2 linked regions of the Homo sapiens genome follow. The protein of the gene in region 1 interacts with the protein of each later gene in a biochemical or structural test. Each region holds a gene or a part of one and is shown in the gene's direction. Other genes may lie near its edges.

What was found.
Region 2: of the proteins of SRPK1 (region 1) and HBS1L, one has a biochemical effect on the other in vitro, tested with the Homo sapiens proteins (one large-scale study listed by BioGRID and IntAct).

Annotation. Positions count from the first base shown.
Region 1 is NC_000006.12:35,872,599-35,876,098, reverse strand, and holds part of SRPK1 (SRSF protein kinase 1), read left to right. Parts: intron 1-1,759; coding exon 1,760-1,866; intron 1,867-3,370; coding exon 3,371-3,500. UniProt on the Homo sapiens protein: Serine/arginine-rich protein-specific kinase which specifically phosphorylates its substrates at serine residues located in regions rich in arginine/serine dipeptides, known as RS domains and is involved in the phosphorylation of SR splicing factors and the regulation of splicing.
Region 2 is NC_000006.12:134,995,336-135,000,423, reverse strand, and holds part of HBS1L (HBS1-like protein), read left to right. Parts: intron 1-2,767; coding exon 2,768-3,027; intron 3,028-3,481; coding exon 3,482-3,647; intron 3,648-5,088. UniProt on the Homo sapiens protein: GTPase component of the Pelota-HBS1L complex, a complex that recognizes stalled ribosomes and triggers the No-Go Decay (NGD) pathway.

The DNA of each region.
Region 1 (3,500 bases):
TTTTTTTTTTTTTAATTTAAGAATCCAGGCTAGTTGTTTTATGCCACCTTAGTTTGGATTTGTTTGATTGTTTCCTCATGATTAAATTCAGGTTAACCGTGTTTGTCAAGCATAGTACATGGATTATTGCATTAGAATATGCATTCGAATGCATATTAGTATATTGCATTAGAAGGCACATGGTGTGAATTTGTGCTTATCATTGGTGGTAGTAAGTTTGATCACTTGGTTAAGGCAGTGCCTTCCAGATTTCCCAGTTGTAAAGGTACTTTGTTCTTTTTGTAATTAATAAGCAATCTGTGGAATGATATTTTGACACTGTGACAATCCTTTTTCCCGACAGTCTTTCACATAGTTGTTTTAGTATTCACTGATTCTTACCTGAATCAGTAATAGTATACTATAGTGATTGTAAAAATGGTGATTTTCTATTTCTGTAATCCCTTATGTATTTATTATTTGGCTTTCTTCTCTAAAGAAGATGTTTCTCTTCCTCCTGCCTCCACACTTACTTTCAGATCAGTGTGGACTTGTTCTGTTTTTAATTCATATATTAACTCATAATTTTATCCTTTATAGTGGTCTGGCCGGGCGCAGTGGCTCACGCTTGTAATCCCAGCACTTTGGGAGGCCAAGGCAGGTAGATTATGAGGTCAGGAGTTCAAGACCAGCCTGGCCAATATGGTGAAACCCCATCTGTACTAAAAATACAAAAATTAGCCCAGCGTGGTGGTACACACCTGTAGTGCCGAGAGGCAGAGGTTGCAGTGAGCTGAGATAGTGCCACTGCACTCCAGCCTGGGCAACAGAGCCAAGACTCTGTCTCAAAAAAAAAAAAAAAAAAGAAGTCTCCATGTTGGCTGGTGACATCCTTTTCAAGATGGTTCCTGTTTCTTCCTGACAGGTTCTTTTATTTGTTAGAACAGCAAGGTGTTCCAAGTTTACCCTGTTATTTTTCCTACCTTGGATTTGGCCATTTTTCCAAGGAGCTCAGGCTTTCCTTTAATGGAGAATGTTAAAGTCTGAGCACTAGACCATTACTATATATGTATGTCTTAACTTGCATGTAGAAGCCAGTGGGGGTGGAAGACATCAAGATACTACTAAAATCTCTGTAGTGCCCTGCACAATTTTAGACTCAGAGTATTCCTGCTGTGTGGTGTCATCAGGTTGTTCATACATAAGGACAACACATGGTGGCACTGGAATCAAGATTAGTTTTGTAAAATACAGAGCATTAAGCAAGTTTCCTATTTAAAAAAAAATGTTGGCATTTACGTTTTTGAGGTTTAAGTCTTTCTTGTACATTCATCTCTTCTATAGTTAAGGAATAATTTGTTTTTCCTTGCTTTGAAGCTGTGAGAGTGGGAATTTTTACCCTGGACACCAATTTTGATATTAGGGAAGAAACTAATTTACCTGAAGCTAATCAACAGCTTGAGGCTTGAGCCTACTGCTTTCTTTCACTATTTGCATATGTAGGTTTCACTTTTTCTTTTACCATTGAGTATTTTAATGTACATAATAATATTGATGAAGCCAGCCGCCCACAATTTAATGTTTCATGAATGCTTTCATTGACTATAGCATTAGACTTTGAAATTTTAGAATATTAACAGCTACATATTTATTCATTCAAGCTCTGTAACTTTTTATACTGAAAGAAAATAATACATAACATTTAATAGGGTGGAATTCACAGCTTGTCTTGCCGTGTTCTTCTTTTGTGCCGTTTTTTCCCTCCTTAATGAATTCCTAGATATCTGCATGGTATTTGAAGTTTTGGGGCATCATCTGCTCAAGTGGATCATCAAATCCAATTATCAGGGGCTTCCACTGCCTTGTGTCAAAAAAATTATTCAGCAAGTATGTATCTTGAATCAGCAAGTATCTTAGTCTTGACTATGTAGTGATTTTTTAATATTCTTGAAGTGTCAGGACTTTATTTTTTCCAATAGAATTTTTGTTTTAAGGCCGGGTGTGGTGGCTCATTCCTGTAATCCCAGCACTTTGGGAGGCCGAGGCGGGCAGATCACGAGGTCAGGAGATCAAGACCATCCTGGCTAACATGGTGAAACCTCCTCTCTACTCAAAATACAAAAAGTTAGCCGGGTGTCTTGGCAGGCACCTGTAGTCCCAAGCTACTCGGGAGGCTGAGGCAGGAGAATGGCGTGAACCCAGGAGGCGGAGCTTGCGGTGAGCCGAGATCACACCACTGCACTCCAGCCTGGGCGACAGAGCGAGACTCCGTCTCAAAAAAAAAAAAGAATTTTTGTTTTAAAATTCTTTGTTTTAAAAAGTAAGTTATTGGCTGGGCGCGGTGGCTCACGCCTGTAATCCCAGCACTTTGGGAGGCCGAGGCGGGCAGATCACCTGAGGTCAGGAGCTCGAGACCAGCCTGGCCAACAGTGCGAAACCCCGTCTCTACTAAAAATACAAAAATTAGCCGGGTGTGGTGGTAAGCGCCTATAATCCCAGCTACTCGGCAGGCTGAGGCAGGAGAATCGCTTGAACCCGGGAGGCGGAGGTTGCAGTGAGCTGAGATCGCGCCACCGCGCTCCAGCCTGGGCGACAGAGCAAGACTCCATCTCAAAAAAAAAAAAAAAGTTAATTGCTAAAATTAAATATTTCATTCAACCTTTAGAATTTATTGTGCTTATTCTCTTTTTAAATGTTTTAGCATAACCATTTTCCCCCAGGTTTGCCTCCTATAATAATTAGAAAGGGAAGCTGAGGTTCCTGACTTGGGAACATTGGAGCCCTTATCCAGAAGTTCTGGTTGCAAATAGTAATTTTACATGAATAGATAATTGCTATGTCAGATTATTGCCATCTCTTTATACAGCATGATTCATAGGCATTTTCTAATTTTCTAAAGAGCCTTCAATATACAGTATAGATTTTACCATCAGGAAAATATTAATACTTCAAGGTGCAAAAATTTGTTTGGATTATATGTCCTGGAAAGAGCTCCAAACTGGGCAGCAAGAGACCTCAATTCTTCCTCAGTGAGGAAATTTGAATTAAAGATATCTAAATGTCTGTCAGCACCTACATTACAACACTTAGAGGGTGTGTGTGTGTTGAAGTTTATTCTCAGTCTTTGCATTGTACATAGTTGAAGAATATCTCCAAATAGAATCAGCTTTGTAAAACATTGAAGAATTTTTTATTGTAAATAATTTCTTGCCTTTTTCATAGTTTAATCTTTCTGAGAAAGTTTATTTGTGCTTTTTTAAAAGGTGCTTTTATTCTCTATAGAAAACGCTATCATATCTTTTTTTTTTTTTTAATGTCATGTTATAATCTCTTACTTCTCCAGAAAGCCTGTATTTTGTGTTTGCAAGTCTGCCACTCTATTTCCATTCAGGTGTTACAGGGTCTTGATTATTTACATACCAAGTGCCGTATCATCCACACTGACATTAAACCAGAGAACATCTTATTGTCAGTGAATGAGCAGTACATTCGGAGGCTGGCTGCAGAAGCAACAGAATGGC
Region 2 (5,088 bases), about 99 Mb from region 1:
TTTTAGAAAGGTAGTTTAGAGAAAAAAAAGACTAGTCATTTTATAATATTAGGTAAGTGTACAGGGTGGGCATTGTGGCTCGTGACTGTAATTCCAGCACTTTAGGAGGCTGAGGTGGGAGCATCACTTGAGCCTAAGAGTTCAAGACCAGCTCGGGCAATATATTGAGATTCCCCCATCTCTACCAAAAAAAAAAAAAAATTAGCTGGGTATAGTGGTGCTTGCCTGTGGTCCCAGCTACTTAAGAGGCTGAGGTGGGATCACTTGAACCTGGGAGGCCAAGACTGCAGTGAGCCAATATTGTACCACTGCGCTCCAGCCTGGGCAACACAGCGAGAGCGAGACCATCTCAAAAAACAGAAAGAAAGAAAGAAAGAAAAAAAGCTTACAAAATGATACCAGAAAGCACCTGAAAAAAATCCAACCAACTTATTCTTTCATTCATACCAGTCAGTAATTAATTATAGGCCTGAAATCCAAATGGTCATTTTTAGACCTTATCTTAGATATTTTTCAAATCTTAAAACATTGACTTTTATTTCATAATATGCAGAAGTTTTTTTTACTAAGGGCAGACTTACCTAGGATACTTTTCTAATTACTTTGGTCATTTCCCACTAACACTGTAGAATTTTAGTGAATTAATTTACAGTTTACCTAAGATTTACTTAAAAGGGGCCGGGTACAGTAGCTCACCCCTGTAATATCAGCACTTTGGGAGGCCGAGGCAGGTGGATTACTTGGGGTCAGGAGTTCAATACCAGCCTGGCCAATGTGGTGAAACCCTGTCTCTACTAAAAATACAAAAATTATCCGGGTGTAGTGGCCAGCGCCTGTAATCCCAGCTACTCAGTAGGCTGAGGCAGGAGAATTGCTGGAACCTGGGAGGCGGAGGTTGCAGTGAGCTGAGATCGCACCATTGCACTCCAGCCTGGGTGATAGAGGGAGACTCCATCTCAAAAAAAAAAAAAAAAAGAAAAGAAAAAGATTTACTTAAATGAAAATGCTATCCTGAAAGCCAGAGGAAAACAAACCTTTCATGTTATTGAATTGCAGATGAAATGATCAAGTCAGCCCTGTTTTGTGAAGCCCTTCCTATTCTGGCAGCCCCTCTGAGGGCTGCCTGGATTGGTGGGGGAGCTGAGCTTCAAGCCCCTGCCCACTCTGTCCACCATAGCTGTCTGCTTTGATCTGTTTTCCATATTGAATTTAATGCAAGCTTGCCTCTGAAGAAAATGTTTTGCAGCTAAAAACAAAAAGATCTGGGGCCCGAGATTGTGATTTCTGCCAGGTCTGATTCAGACCAGAGCCTATGTCTAGTCACAGTAGATCACTTGTATTATAATTTGTGGGGCTTTAAAAATTCTTCTAAGTATAGAATTGTCAAGTTTTGGTTTTAGAACTAGCTGTGGTCATTCAAACAAATATTTGCAAATTATAGTCTGTTTGATTTCACTTAATTTAGCCTGTTAGAATCCTTTAAAAGTATGGGAACATTTCCTGCATATTACTGTTTTTACCTACTAGTTTAAGATGAAGTGCATCTGTCTAAGCAGTGCTCAAAAATGAACACCTAAATTGGTTAGTGGAGATTTGAAAAAGCAAAATAAAATGAGAATGGATATGTGGCTTTAAATAAAGTTGCAAATATAACTATTGTGACTCTTTTCCTGAGGCGTATTGTGAAGGGCTAATGTTGGGCATATAAAAATGCCCTGACAGGGAAAAACCAATGTATTTTTTGTTATAATAGGCAAGAAGAAAATAGATGTGCTTACACATATCCATCATGCTACAATCTTAAATGATTATTATAAATTGCTTTCTATATGTAGTTTTTCTTTGCCAGCTCCACATAGAGTTGGATATAATTGGTTTCATTCTTAATAACTTCCAATTTAACCTGCTCTTTGTCCTAATTCTGTTTATCCATAGTTGTTAAAGCAAAGTGAGGCATATCATAGTCTGATTATTAGGTCACATTCCTTATAGCTATTCAGAGTTGCACTGGTACTAGTTTCTATGTGGAGTGTCAACGAGCTCATGAAGAACTAAGATCAGTGTTTACTTTTGTTAAGGAAAGAATAAGTTAAGCTGGGCAGTCTTGTTTCTCCTTTATATATCTGAGTTCCTCACTAGATTGTAATCTTTTAAGAGTGGTAGTTAACTTTTTAATTTCTATGTCATTTTCTTTTTGACATCAGTCCCTAGTATATGTTGTAGTTTTTAATAAATCAAGTGTTTGTTGAATTAATGAATTAAAGCTCCACTGTCAAAAATGTTTATGAACTGTAGTCATTTAGAGATATCTCCCCTCGGGGTAGTATTTGAGTAAAAAAGATCATAAGTCTATCATGTTGGAAGGATGAGTTGAAGTAAAACTATATTTTAGTACTAATTCATCTCCAGTAATATATTTGGTGCCAATTTTACAAAATATCTCCTTCATACCATTGATTTTGATAGGATGGATTATATGGCCAAGACTGTGGGCTTGATTTTGAATTTCAGTTATTTTTCAACATTATTTTCTTCTTATCTTCATTTTTGGTACAGTTTTTCTCATGGGATCTTCCACGGTTGTATTTGTGTGGTTTGAGTCTAGCTACTTATCATTTCCACCTTAACAGACTTTAGCTACTTAGCAGAGATTATTTCTGGTCTGGAGCATAAAGGATTATGAAGAAACAGTTTCTCTGCCCTTCTGTCATTGTAGGACATCAATAGAGTTGGTTTCAAATACTTTTTTCCTATCTGCCTTCTGTAGAGTATCTTCTGAAGAAAATGGTCATAGTTTCCACACACCTCAAAAAGGACCGCCCATTGAAGATGCCATTGCTTCTTCCGATGTTCTTGAGACTGCTTCTAAATCTGCTAATCCACCCCACACGATTCAAGCATCAGAAGAGCAGAGTTCAACCCCAGCACCGGTGAAAAAGTCTGGCAAGCTGAGGCAGCAAATAGATGTGAAGGCGGAACTGGAGAAGCGGCAAGGAGGGAAGCAGCTACTCAACTTAGTGGTCATTGGTAATGCTCTTTGTCCCTCTGGATCGTCAGCCAGCCATGCCTTAGCCTGCCCACTGTCTGGAGGCAGCATGGAAACTCTGAGTTTCTCCATGGGTGGAATGGACAGAGAGCAAGGAGGCACAGTCTCATAATGCTTTCTAGTCATGTGGGGAGAGATAATGCCAAGTTACCAAAGAGGTCATTACACTTGATTGTGGGATTTTTCATTTTGTGAACATTTTGAAATTGGCGTGTCTTGTTGACAATTTTAATTTCCAAAAATCTGAGAAATTCCCCCCGTCTGTAAAGAGATATGCTCTTTTTTTTTTCTATTAGATGTTTTAACTGTCATTTGATAAATACTGGTATTACTGTAAACCACTGACATGAAATATTGAATTACACATTTATGCAATGCCTCAATGTGAACATCTGGAAATGTACCTGGTATTAATCCTGAATCAATTTTCTTTAGGTCATGTTGATGCTGGGAAAAGTACTCTGATGGGCCATATGCTTTATCTTCTGGGTAATATAAACAAAAGAACTATGCATAAGTATGAACAGGAGTCTAAAAAGGCTGGCAAAGCTTCGTTTGCATATGCATGGGTCTTGGATGAAACTGGCGAAGAAAGGGAAAGGTAGTCACTATATTTCAAAATTTTCAGTTTGAAATCATACAGTCTTCTAAAATAAGTGTGTAATATGTGTTGAATTTGTAAAACATATGAAATACTTTAGAGATTATTTTTAGAAAATAGCTTTTAGATATCAGGGAACTATTTTGACTTTTTTGATGTAATCTGCATACTGTTTTTACTCTTCTGAATTTTATAGAAATAGATTAAAAGAATGTTTAAAAGAAACAAAATAAAAGCCATGCAGAAAAACAACAGTAAAAATCATAAGCTGATTATTCTATGGGATAAGTTTCAGTTGTCACTTCCCTAAGTATTTGTCAAATTGTCTTGATTTTGAATTAAAATTATGAGTAAGACTTTTAATTTCATGTCAGCTTACAAAGGAAAGGTAACTGTCATAAAACCTCTTCTGTGTAGAATCTAAATAACCAGCAAATTCAAATTACCAAACAATTCATTTTTATACTTTACATATTATGTTTTTATGAGACAGTCTGCAAACAAGTAATTCTGTAGCTATAATGCAGTCAGTTACTCCTCTGTCTCTGTTACTGTCTGGCCAAAGAATAGTATTTCTTTTGAAGTCCTTTTAGAGTGTCAGTATAGATCATGTTAGGGTAGCTAGGGTAGGAGAGCCAAAGGACACCTTAATAATTAGTGAAATGGCAGATATATCAACTGTGTCAAAATAATGACTCTTTACAAACCTATAAAGTCCTGTGGAAGTCCTAGATTAACGAGATTAAACTGTGTTCCCTGATGTCTTCAATCTGATTATTGGAGAATATATCTGGATTTTCATGCCTTTTTAATGTGTATTTTCTTGCAGTCTTGGATAGTCTCCATTATAAACATATAAGGTAACGCTCTGTAAAGCAGGTCACAGTATTCCTTAGCTCTTCTGATAAACCAGAATTTGTATCATAATGGTTTCTCTTTCTTTGTGGGTGTCTTTAGTTCTTTATAGTATCACAGACCTGTTTTCTATCCTAGTAAGAAAAATTAGCTGGACAGTTGCCAATTTTGGAAAACAATGTAATTGTATATGATGCAATAGTAGAAGCCTAAATAATTTTCACCTCTCAGTTTAACAAGCACATTACTAAAGTATGTGGCTTTTTAGTTTTCTTTGCATTATCTAGTAAGCAGGTAAAGACATTGAGAACAGTATAATTTAAGTTAGAATGGTTTACTTGAATTTACCTAGTATCTTAGTTGAGCTGGCAAGTGAACTAATAATCTATTTGATTCCTATAATGGTCAGTCATTTTAGCTTTTTTGATAATACATCTGTTGATTGGCTTTCATATTTTTGCTGCTGCGTTTTGCTGCTGCTAGTTTTTTATTGCTCAGCATGATATAAGTTTTAGAATATTTCTTCATTCCATAGATAGCAGATGCTTCCAGGTACATGATGGGAGTTTTAGCTCACCACCGTATG